2 linked regions of the Homo sapiens genome follow. The protein of the gene in region 1 interacts with the protein of each later gene in a pairwise test. Each region holds a gene or a part of one and is shown on either strand. Other genes may lie near its edges.

What was found. The genes of interacting proteins can lie anywhere in the genome.
Region 2: the proteins of IWS1 (region 1) and ERICH2 interact in a two-hybrid assay, tested with the Homo sapiens proteins (one large-scale study listed by BioGRID).

What each region holds. Positions count from the first base shown.
Region 1 is NC_000002.12:127,484,755-127,488,795, reverse strand, and holds part of IWS1 (protein IWS1 homolog), read left to right. Parts: intron 1-2,131; coding exon 2,132-2,243; intron 2,244-2,762; coding exon of another isoform or gene 2,763-2,891; exon of another isoform or gene 2,892-2,922; intron 2,923-4,041.
Region 2 is NC_000002.12:170,796,928-170,799,747, forward strand, and holds the end of ERICH2 (glutamate-rich protein 2), read left to right. Parts: intron 1-1,113; coding exon 1,114-1,185; intron 1,186-1,842; coding exon 1,843-1,967; 3' UTR 1,968-2,050; downstream 2,051-2,820.

The DNA of each region.
Region 1 (4,041 bases):
AAGGGGTTGGACAGTAGTATGGGGCCTGAGGTGGTAGAAGATAAGGTTGGAAATAATAGACCGGTGAAGGGCTTTGAATCAAGATGAGGAATTTTCACGTCTTGTGATTCCACAGGAAGTTTTTGAGGCTGGATGTGAAGCCATCTGGTTTGATTTGATTTAGGGTGCTGATGCCAATGGCATCATGTAGGATGGATTGGAGGGCAGTGGGACTGAGGCAGTGATACAGCTAAACAGAGGTGGTAGTTGGGAAACAGAGGGGTGAGAAGACATTGCAGAGGCAAAGCTGTCATATGTTGGTGACTTAGTGGGAGAGAAGATGGCTAGAGTTGAAGACCTCAGCCAAAATTTTAACCTGAGTGCTGAGACAGTGTTTATTACCTTTCACCAAAATGGAGGGAGAAGTAGATTTGAGGGACCAGGCAAGTTCTCTTTTGAGCATATTAAATGTGACATGCCTAATGAGATAGCCCTATAAATATTATGGGTCTAGAACTTGTAAAGAGATGTTTGGGCTAGAGACCTAGATTTGATGGTTCTCTCCATAGAAAAGATTGTTCAATCAAGAGAGTATAGAGTAAGAAACGAACTAAACAATTTTGAAAGGGGGCATAGCCAGGCAGAGCAGCCAGCGAAGGGGAATGAGCACCTGTGGTCCTGTGCGTTGGAGCAGAGCCTGGAGGGGAATGAGGCTGAGCTGGAGGTGGCAATGACAAAAGCATGGGCCAGTGGCAGGTGCTGCAGAGGGCTTTGTGCAGGTGTGTTGGTAGTCAGGCAGCATCCCGATTGCAAGAAGAGAATAGGGGATGAGCTAGAGGAAAAGTTTGTTTAGGAAGGAAGTTGATGAGACCGTGGCTTCAGAAGGAAAGTAAGAGTTACAGGGAATTTTCTTGGCAAGCCAATTAGTCTGTTCATATATATATGAAGGTTATAAAAGTTTAAGGTTGGCCGGGCGCGGTGGCTCACGCCTGTAATCCCAGCACTTTGGGAGGCTGAGGTGGGCAGATCACGAGGTCAGGAGGTTGAGACCATCCTGGCTAACATGGAGAAACCCCATCTCTACTAAAAATACAAAAAATTAGCTGGACGTGGTGGCGGGCGCCTGTAGTCCCAGCTACTTTGTAGGCTGGGGCAGGAGAATGGCACAAACCCAGGAGGTGGAGCTCGCGGTGAGCTGAGATTGTGCCACTGCACTCTAGCCCGGGCAACAGAGCGAGATTCAAGTTTAGGGTTAAAAATGGGGTAAACTGTACAAGAGAATAGAAACAATTGAGAATTTTTTACCCTTCTCTCCCCATCCCCAGCAGACACACATAGATCCACTCTTTACTAGTTACCTAAATGCTGAATGGTTTGAATGCCCAGGCATCCATAGATAGGCTTTACTTTGGAAGGTTAGTAATCTTATTTTAGTCTAGCATGGTTACCCACGGATTTGCATAGAACTAAATACATACACATAAATGAGTGCAAGTAAAACTGGGGAAGTGTAAATAAGATTAGTGTACTGTATCAACATCAGTATCCTGGTTGTGATACTATACTGTAGATTCGCAAGTTGTTGCTATTGGGAGAGACATTGGATCTCTCTCTCTATCATTTTTTACAACTTCATTTGAATCTGTAATTATCTTCAAAAGATTTTTACAAAAATAAACATTAAAAATTGATGTATGAGTTGTATATTGAAAAACTACTTTATAGGCATACTGGGAGTTTTGGGGGTCATTTGACGACTCAATTCTTCACAATTCCTCATCTCACAAGTGAACTCATGAGTGACTCCACTATACAAGAGAAAAGGGGATTCCAAGTCATGCGGGCGGGACTAGCCTTGGAAGGCAGAGGGGCATGAGTATATCTGAAGCTGAGGAGAGGAGAAAAGGATTCATGCAAATGCAGAGCAAGTTGGCTTTGGAAGAGAAGTGAGGAATGCATACTGTAGTGTGTGTGATGACAGGCTAGCTGGGAGGCGGCAGGAGGGTGGATTGGGTGACCTTTGGTGGGGAGTAGAGGAGTTTCGAACATTGCAGCTTAATGGGTGGATGTAGGAACAGGAGTGTGAAATGGCCTATGTGCCCCACTGTGGCTGGCCACATAAGAAGCATGCTCTTCCTCTTCCCTTTTTCAGGGCTCTTAGACCTGGAGATCCTGGATTCTGTGCCCGTGCAAGGGTCCCAATGCCTTCAAACAAGGACTATGTTGTCAGGCCCAAATGGAATGTGGAAATGGAGTCATCCAGGGTAAGCAAGCGGAGGATCGGCAAGGTGGATCTCACCTGCAGATTACTGTTTGACTCTTTACTTCATGTGTTAATAACCCTTGTAGCTCTTGAAGTTTGTCTGATTCAGAGAGGACTGTTTTCTGGTCGCTTATCTAGCCAAACCACAAATTGAGCAATAGAGAAAGGAAAAGTATTACCCAGGATTAAAGTTTATTGCTGATGAATTTTTCTTCAGTCTTAATTCAACATTATCAGGTAGGGAAGTTTCTTCTTATTAATCCCTTTACTTCAAGCAAGGCTTGAAATTGAAACCTGGAGTATTCTGATACAGTGAATTTTTTTTTTTAATAACCATGAGAAACAGAGCTTACGTGCTTCAGCAGACCTACCTCTCCCTTTCTCTTCAACGGTTTAAGCAATTCCATTGCAAATGATTAGGGTAGACACTTATTCTGTTATCATTGTAAATACTGCTCAGTGGATCTTCAGTGTTTCTCAGTAATCTCTTTTTATTCTCCAATCAAACTACTACTTCTAGCCTGGTATTCTTAAAAAGGGCCTAAGCCGATTGGAAAAGCATAAGAGGCGATTTGCAGAACAGAAACGACTCAGCAAAGTGCATCGTGCTGTCAAGTTCAGCATTGAAGGCAACAGGATGCCCCTATAGGCCTGGCCCTACCAGAGTATATACACGAGAGGTATTCCCAAGGAAGCATGTACTGTGCATGGGCTTGAATTGTCAACAGTCAGAGTGAAAAGTGTGTGTGTGTGTGCTTTCTTAATCAGAAGAGGCCAGGTCTGCTTTTAGTTTCAAAATAATGACCCTAACAGGCACCTTGGGATATTCAAGGCCTCTTGAATATTTAGAAATTGACATGGAAGTCCCTTCCTTTATCAGTATCCTAGAGAGTAATAGATAATTACTTCCCTAATATGCATTTGGGTCTTCCTGACTGGTACCCGTTTTTATGAAAAAGGTTTTTGTTAGGACCCAGAATTACAGTGATATGTGTTACAGGCATATAAACTAGTTAGTGGTTTCCTGGTGGGAGGTAGCTTGTTTCCTGCTGTCAGTGGCTCAGCAACATGCATTTGAGAACTCATTACATAAAGCCTTATACTAAATATTTAGGAGATGAATTTGATTAACACATACTCAAAATGTGGTCAGAAGTGGAAAAGACTTGGGAACATTCATAAGCCCAACTCACTGATCCACTATGCTTTGAGACTAATGGCACCTTTGTTGCGGAGCACACACAGTGTGTGTGTGTTGCCTGCCTATGGTTCTTCTCCATGACCCCTGCTTTGGCAGCTGTTTCCACTGACTCCACTCTCCTACCTGCCAGTTCATGTTGCTATTAAGTGACTATCAAAACAAAACGTACTTTCTTATTTCTTGAGAATAAATCGAGGGTAGAGAAGGACTAGTTCTGTGCCAAGAACTTCCTCCTCTCTCTCTCCCTCCTCTTTCTTGTGCCCATATCCGTGTCCCTGACCACCTCTCCATGTCCCCTGTACCTGTTTCTTTTTTGCCCTTCTGTCCTTTTTCTTTTTCTTTTTCTTTTTCTTTTTGAGACGGAGTCTTGCTCTGTCGCCCAGGTTGGAGTGCAGTGGTGCGATCTCCACTCACTGCAAGTTCCGCCTCCTGGGTTCACACCATTCTCCTGCCTCAGCCTCCCAGTTAGCTGGGACTACAGGCTCCTGCCACCATGCTCGGCTAATTTTTTGTATTTTTAGTAGAGACGGGGTTTCATCCTGTTAGCCATGATGGTCTTGATCTCCTGACCTCGTGATCCACCCGCCTCGGCCTCCCA
Region 2 (2,820 bases), about 43 Mb from region 1:
ATAGTCTAGACAACTCTGAAACTAAGGGTATAAATCTTTCTGGCCTCTAGGATTTTGCTAACATACTAACAAGCCTAAAAAAGTCTATTGTTGTGGTCCAAAAGAAAGGTGACACAGTGACATAAAGGATCAGCAGAAAGGAATAAATAGTACTGAAAACAATGGGTCCAATGAAGGTGGAGAATGTTGTTAAGCAGGCAATGACCAACGTGTAGACTACAGTAAAAGTTGTCAAGATGAAGAGAAAGAAGTAACATCAGTTCCCCTATTGGAAAGATGTAACAAAATGGCATCTCTAGCATGGAAGAGGTTGCATTAAAAACAAACAAACAAAAACTTCCTCTGTGTTCCGATGAGACCTTTAGTAAAGGATGTCATGTAGATGGGTGGATGACATGAGATGAAGGATTAACAGACCTCTAGGCACACAGTCTTCTCATTAGCAAAGTCTCCATATTTTGCAGAATTTGTACCTTCTTTGGGAAATGATTATGTTCATGAAACACTCTGGCTACTGTCCTATGAGGGAAGCTATATTGAGGTGATAGAGATTGCTTTCTATGGATAGGAGGTAGAAAATATAATGAGGGCTGGGTGCAGTGTCTCATGCCTGTAATCCCAGCACTTTGGGAGGCCGAGGTGGGTGGATCACCTGAGGTCAGGAGTTTGAGACTAGCCTGGGCAACATGGTGAAACCCTGTCTCTACCAAAAATACAAAACTTAGCCAGGCGTGGTGGCACACACCTGTAGCTACTCAGGAAACTGAGGCACGAGAATCACTTGAACCCGGGAGGCAGAGGCTGCAGTGAGCCAAGATCATGCCACTGCACTCCAGTCTGGGTAACAGAGCGACACCCTGTCTCAGGGAAAAAAAAAAAAAAAAAAAGAAAGAAAGAAAATATAGTGAGGATCATTTATCTTCCAAAGTGCAAAATAGAAGTGCAGAATTTTCTCTATTTGTACTCAGATATACCTGTGGTATAATTGTTAGTGTTTATTGCATTGTGCCTTTCACCTGCTCTGACTGACAGTTCAATTTCATTCTAAGGAGCCTGTTTGCTGCAACACTGAACGTTAATAACACACATTCTGTTGTCCATTTTCATTTTCAGTCCTAATCTATGAACCAGAAAATCCTGAGGCCAAGGAGTTTTTCACACTTATTGAAGAAATGTTGCTGATGGGTAATTTTAAAAATTGAAATTCCTTGTTTCTCATAGAACTATAAGCAGTCACTTTAAAAACCCATTATCCCGGGAGATTGTCGATACATCTTTAGGAAGTGGTTAAGAAAAGGCTAAATGGCTGTCTTAAATGGTTTAGTGAAACAGCTTGTCCTCTGTGGATGGTCACAATGACCCCCTTCTCTCTGTGGGATAGAACTGCCCGAGCAGAGCAGGCTCCCTGGGCACCAGGCATCAGGTATTGACAAGCAGAATATGCTAACACGGCTGCGTGTTAAAGGAATTACCCACAATTCCAAGGGAAGCCACACCCTCTCAATTACCTTGTCTCAATTCCTTTCAATGGACAATTTTACTATTGTCAATAAAATTCTATGATAGAAAGAATTCTATGAAATCGTTAAATAGAATTTCATTGACAATAGTAAAATTATTTTTATAGACTTATGTTTTAAATTATCAAAAACACCTGTATGCCAGTAAAAATACATTTCTTCTTTGTACTACCATTTGACCCTAGTGCAGTTAGCCAAGTCCAACTCAGTTCTTATGTTACAAATATATGTATTTCTTGGTAGAGGGAGGGGCAAGGAGAATTATTTTTCAGAGTGAAATATTAAGAAACACCTTAAGCAATCCTCTTCCTTTCTGTGGCAGAGAAAACTCAGAATCATGAGCAAGACGGTGAAAACAGTGATGAAGACAGCAGTGGTGAGAGTAAAGGAGAAAGCGATGAGGAGCTGAGTGACGAGAGCTCTGACGAAGGTGAAGATGGATCATGAGTGTTGCTGCAATACTTGAAGCTTCATGTATTTTCATTAATGTATACCATGCAAATATAAAGACAAGTGACATTTTAGTCTAATTCTTCCTTATTTGGTACAGTTTCTTTTAAGTTATCTATATTCTTGGCTTAAGACTCTTCCTAATATTTAGGCCTTAGCTCAATATATGAGTTACTCAGAGAGGAAAATAGTTGAAAACACTTACATAGGACTGTGTGCCAGGTACTGTTCAAACTGCTCTACACACATTGTATAATTCAACAACCCCATTAAGTACTATTATTATGCCATTCTACAGATGAGAAAACTGAGGCACAGACAGGGTGAATAATTTGTCCAGTATCATACACCTATTTGTTTGTAGAGCCTGGATTTGTGCATGGACATTATTGCCCCAGAATTCATATGTTTAGTTCCCTATAAATTACCACCATTTCAGGCACTTTTATATCATTCATCATTTGTTTGTTTGTCTAGATAATGGGATCTTGCCACATCAACCAGGCTGGTCTCAAACTCCTGGCCTCAAGTGATCCCCCCATCTTGGCCTCCCAAAGTTCTGGGATTACAGGCGTGAGCCACTGTGCCCAGCCCATTCATTGTATGTTCTTTACAGCATGTATCAGTGTCTGAAATGCTTGTTTAATTGTTCATTTCATCTTCTCCCTACCTGCCAGAGAATGTAACACCCATGAAGCAGAACTTTATCATTTTCCTCATAATATCCCAGCAACTGGACAAGTACCTGGCAAATAATAGAACACATATACCAAATTAATGAACAAATGAAGTGAAAGTTAGTGGAAATATTTATATTCTTTCATAAAACATTTACAAGACTTATACTTCT